2 separate regions of the Homo sapiens genome follow, and region 2 is linked to region 1. The links come from fine-mapping of genetic effects on gene expression. Tissue or cell type: whole blood. Region 1 holds a variant in brackets; the other region holds the start of a gene. All regions are shown on one strand. Distances are from middle to middle.

What was found. PIP is the estimated chance that this variant, and not a neighbour inherited with it, causes the effect.
Region 2: BMERB1 starts here. The variant in region 1 is fine-mapped to the expression of BMERB1 in whole blood (TOPMed, PIP above 0.99). The same link has a PIP of 0.9 or more in nasal epithelium.

The regions. Positions count from the first base shown.
Region 1 is chr16:15,549,370-15,552,051 of GRCh38, reverse strand. All of the region lies in intron 2 of MPV17L-BMERB1 (MPV17L-BMERB1 readthrough), which reads right to left. All of the region lies in intron 2 of BMERB1 (bMERB domain containing 1), which reads right to left. Among named protein-coding and RNA genes, the nearest start is that of MIR6506, 60 kb to the left of the region's middle. The variant G/A (reference allele first, on the strand shown) is at 1,064.
Region 2 is chr16:15,433,029-15,435,710 of GRCh38, reverse strand. It overlaps BMERB1 (bMERB domain containing 1), which reads right to left and starts at 1,123. Exons shown (of 6, transcript NM_033201.3): 1 at 952-1,123. The coding sequence starts at 1,057. All of the region lies in intron 1 of MPV17L-BMERB1 (MPV17L-BMERB1 readthrough), which reads right to left. RefSeq lists an enhancer at 197-819.

The DNA.
Region 1 (2,682 bases):
CCCTTGGTGTCCCTAACCCTACCCCTAAGGCCTTTGGCTAAGCTGGCCCAGAATAATTAAAGATGTGAACAGAGATTAAGCTCCAGGTGGGCACAGCAGCTCCTGCCTGTTATCCCAGAACTAAGGGAGGCCGAGGCAGGAGGATCGCTTGAGTGCAGGAGTTCAAGAGAGCTGCTGGTTTTAAATGTGGCACTTCCTACACTCATTTTCTCTTGTGCTGTCTCTCTCCTGCCGCCACGTAAGACGTGCTTGCTTTCCCTTCGCCGTCTGCCATGACTGCAAGTTTCCTGAGGCCTCCCCAGCCATGCAGAACTGTGAGTCAATTAAACTTCTTTCCTTTATAAATGACCCAGTCTCGGGTAGTATCTTTACAGCAGTGTCAGAACAGACTGGTACACAGCCCATGTGCATCCCTGTGTAAAGCCTGGCCCCAAGGAGTTCTCTTGAACTCCTGCACTCAAGCCTTTGCCCAACTCCTCCCTCAGCTCAGAAATCTTTGTCTCAAACTAAGTGCTCTGCAGCTTCACTAATCCCTTCTCCTTCTGGAATCTTCCTGATGCCCTCAGCTACATCAGGTCCTCTTCCTTCCTGCAGCCATAGCCCCCTTGTTATCCCATTGACATCTAGGCATTCCAGAACCATCTAGGCATTTGTGTTTCTGCCTCAACAGACTGCACCTCCTTTAAGGGACTTTGCCTTTTTCCTTCATGGTTCTAGCACACCACCCCGTCCCTGATACATTGCAGTAAATACACAAGGAAGGAAGGAAGGCTGGCAGGCATGGAGGGTACACACAGTACTGCATTTTGTTGAAACAAGGCCTAAAGACTGCAGGTGCAGGTGGAAAAATTTCAAGTCTCATGATAGACACCACGAGGGCAATCGCATCTATCAAAGGCGGTGAGTCAGCCCTGGAGAAATCCAATTAAACATCCGTCATTCGAGTGATACTGCTTTGCATTCTGCTATCAATACCGTTTCTATTCTGAGCTGGCTCAGCATCTGGGCTCTCTTGTGCCTTCCACTCTCAGTCACCTGCTGCGAGTTCCTGCCACTGTGTGGC[G/A]TCCTCTCCCCCAAATCCACCCTCTCCACTCCCAAGTCCATCCCTCCTCTCAAGCTGATGCCAACAAAAGCTGATTTGTATCCAGCCCAATCTCATTGAATCCTCATCATCTGTAGGGTGGTATTCTTATTCTCCACTTTACAGAACTCTCAGAGAGGTTAAGTAAATCGCCCGAGATCAGACAGCTTGCAAGATTTGAAAGAAGACAGTCTAACTCCAGAGCCCTGACAATTGCCACTACAACAGACTGCCTACGCATGTCACCCAGATATACCAGGCTGTCATCTTCTGTTCCCATACCCCCTTACTTTATCCCGTTCTTTCAGTCAGGAGCCTTCTAAAATGCTTTCAGGCCGGGCGCGGTGGCTCATGCCTGTAATCCCAGCACTTTGGGAGGCTGAGGCAGGCAGATCACTTGAGCTCAGGAGTTTGAGATCAGCCTGGGCAATACGGTGAAACCCCGTCTCTACTTAAAAAAAAAAAAAAAAATTAGCCAGGCATGGTGGTGGGCACCTGTAGTCCCAGCAACTTGCGGGGCTGAGGTGGGAGGATCGCTTGAACCTGGGAGGCAGAGGTTGCAGTGAGCTGAGATTGTGCCACTGCACTCTGGCCTGGGTGACAGAGTGAGACTTTCACCAGTGGCAGTTCCAAGGAGTGGGCTTTCTTAGGGATGGCAGGGAATGGTTTCAGTCCCACCTCGTAATTTCCATTAGCCTTCAAACCACCTCAACATTTAAAAAGTGCTTTTGGGCCGGGCGCGGTGGCTCACACCTGTAATCCCAGCACTTCGGGAGGCCGAGGCGGGGTGGATCACGAGGTCAGGAGATAGAGACCATCCTGGCTAACACAGTGAAACCCTGTCTCTACTAAAAAACACAAAAAATGGTGGTAGGTGCTTGTAGTCCCAGCTACTCGGGAAGCTGAGGCAGGAGCATGGCGTGAACCCGGGAGGTGGAGCTTGCAGTGAGCCGAGATGGCACCACTGCACTCCAGCCTGGGCGACAGAGCAAGACTGCATCTCAAAAAAAAAAACGTGCTTTTGAAATGGGAAATATCAGGTAGGATAGAAGCAATAAGAGAAAATGAAATAAAGAAATGGGAAATAGACATTTTTCCCAATTTTGTGGAAAGTGTAAGAAAAAAACTTGATAGAAACTATGCAATTTTAATTAATTTGTACGACACAAATCTCACTAAAAACCATGGACTCCCTACTGCGAAGGCAGCTCTAAGGTAAGTCCCCTGATTGTTTCATGTGACCAACTGGCTGGCCCTAAGCCCCTCCTGTTTAGGAATTTTTTTTTTTTTTTTTAGACAATGTCTCACTCTGTCGCCAGGATGGAGTGCAGTGGCGTGATCTCAGCTCACTGCAACCTCCGCCTCCTGGGTTCAAGGAATTCTCCTGCCTCAGCCTCCTGAGTAGCTGGGACTACAGGCGCCCGCCACCACGCCCAGCTAATATTTGTATTTTTAGTAGAGACAGGGTTTCACCACGTTGGCCAGGATGGACTCCATCTCTTGACCTAGTGATCCGCCTGCCTCTGCCTCCCAAAGTGCTGGGATTACAGGCGTGAGCCACCGCACCCGGCCCTGTTTAAGAATTTTAAAGCAATCACTCC
Region 2 (2,682 bases), 120 kb after region 1:
CTTTAGCCCTACATCGCTCAGAGATCCGTGCTGGGGCAGAGCGCGGAGCAGTGACCCAGAGCCGAGGCAGGAAGCTGCCGGGTCCCTGAGAAGGACCTCTCCTTCCCAGCCTGGTGGGCAAGCCATGTGAGAGCAGCGGCTTTGGGGAGCCCCCGGGTTTGCAGGGACCTCCAGTGACCCTGGAGCCCCTGACGCTGCCTCTACACTTTGAGGGCAGGAGTTTCAACTATTGTATCCTATTAATGAAAAACAAAATCCTTCGTTTACTTAGAAATGTTGACATCCAAACACCGCAGAGAGAACCAGTAAATAAATACAGCCGGTCTATTTCGAAACTGCCTTCTAGAGTTGTGCCCAAGCAGACTTTAACTGAGTCAAGAGAGAAAAGAGAACGGTGTGTGCCTTTTGACCCTTTTGCCGCCCCAAGCCTCCCACCCCGACCCAAGGAAGGCGAGGGAGGAAAAGCTGGGAATTTCAGGTGCGCTCCGAAACCTCACGCAGGGGGTAGGAAAGCAAGCGGAAAACCAGCAGACACTCCCCCCTCTCCAGGGACGTGGGCGCTTTCCAGGACGGTCCCGCGTCTCCAGCGCCCTGGCGCATCCCAGGCGGAGAGAGGATCCTCCTCCCTGGGCTGTGGGAGAGACCCGACTTCACAGGACCAGCTGCGAGCTGACGGATCCGGGACTCCTAAGTCGAGCCCAGGCTCCTGCCTTAGCTGCCTGGCCATCTCCCAACCCTCCCAGTGAGGCTCAGCCCGGAGGGTCCCCCCCTTTTGTTCGCGGGGAGAGCGCGTCGCTGCGCAGAGCTGCGTATCCCCCTGAGCTGCCAGCCCCGCTGCGGGGGCGCTTCCCTGGGTCCACTGCTGGCGTTCCTCGCGCTCCCGCGACCACCCGCGCAGGCGCATGGATCCCCAGCTGTCCCCGGCCCCCCGCCCCCCGCCCCAGTACTCACTTCTCCCCAGTCTCTCCGTTTTCCAAGCCGTCTCCTCCACCGCCCCATAGCGCCTCAGAGGCTTCTCGGCTTCCAGATGGGTGGACAAAGATTGCTTTAATTCCATCGCTGATCCCCGTGGCCAGGTCGACGGGTCTCCCTTTACTCCATTCCCGTTGCGGGCTGCAGGGAGGGAGGTGGCTCCAGCCAGCAGCGTTTTAACGGGCCGGGCGCCCGTGACGCTGCTCCCTCTCCTCCGCCGCCGCCAGCGCCCGGGAGCGCCTACGGGTACCCAGAAGGGGCAGGGATGCACGGCACATGCGCAGTGGAGGCTTGGAGGGGAGGCTTGGGGGCTGGGTAGGGAGACAGAGGGGCAGGTGATAACTCTAAGAAAAACAACAAACAAAACAACTAAAATAAAAGCAACACAAAGGAAGTGAGAACAAGGCCCCTGCCTATTCTAGAGCCCCTAGTGATGCTTGGCATGGGGCTGGCACTGTGGGCGGCTTGCGAGCTGTAAGCCGGCAGCGGGTTTTGAGTGGGATTGGTGAGCCCGTCTCTACCTGCGGGCGATGCATCCGTCTTTCTGGGGAGCATGCAGAGGCGTGAGTGTGGACCTAGATCTATGGGTTCTGGGCTTGGCTGACTGCTTTTCTGTGAGAATATCTGTCGTGTGCGTCTGTTTAATTTGAAGTGCGACAGTGGATGCCTATGTCAGTTCCATATGTGTTTGCATGCACTTTGGGGAGAGAGAGAGAGAGATGAAAATATTTTGCACACAGGTATAGCAGAGCTGTTTGGAGCATGGGGCTTTACTTTCCAGAAACCCCAGAGGTTTATCTTTAAAAACAAACAAACAAACAAACAAAAAACACCATGGCAGTGCCTGGGCACGATGGCTCATGCCTGTAATCCCAGCACTTTGGGAGGCCGAGGTGGGTGGATCACTTGAGGCCAGGAGTTTGAGACTAGCCTGGCCAACATGGTGAAACCCCATCTTTACTGAAAATACAAAAATTAGCCAGCTGTGATGGCGCAGGCCTGTAATTCCAGCTACTCGGGAGGCTGAGGCAGGAGAATCGCTTGAACCTGGGAGGCAGAGGTTTCAGTCATCCGAGATCATGCCATTGCACTCCAGCCTGGGCAACAAGAGGAAAACTCCGTCTCAAAAAAAGAAAAGAAACGAAAAAAAGAAAATGATATCCCAGTAGGAAACAGGGAAAGAATATGAATAGTCATGTCATGTGGGCAGAGGAGGAAGGCCTAATGTGAGAAGCTGCTCAACCCCCTTAGTAATAAGGAAAATGAAAATGTAAATAAGAATATATCATCCGATAGGCAAAAACTAAAAAATCTAACAATCATGTGTTGTAAAAGATGTGGATTTTTTTTTTGAGACAGAGTCCAAAAATGCTGGGGTTACAGATGTGAGACACCATGCCTGGCATAATTTGAACTTTTATCTAATGCTAGTGGGAGTATAAATTGGTACAACTGTTTTTTTCTCTCTGTCACCCAGGCTGGAGTGCAGTGGCATAGTCTCGGCTCACTGAAACCTCCACCTCCTGGGTTCAAGCTCCTGAGTAGCTGCGACTACAGGCGTGCCACCATGCCCAGCTAATTTTTTGTATTTTTAATGGAGATGTGGTTTCACCATGTTGGCCAGGCTGGTCTCGAACTCCTGAGCTCAAGTGATCTGCCCGCCTTGGTCTCCCAAAGTGCTGAGACTACAGGAATGAGCCACTGTGCCTG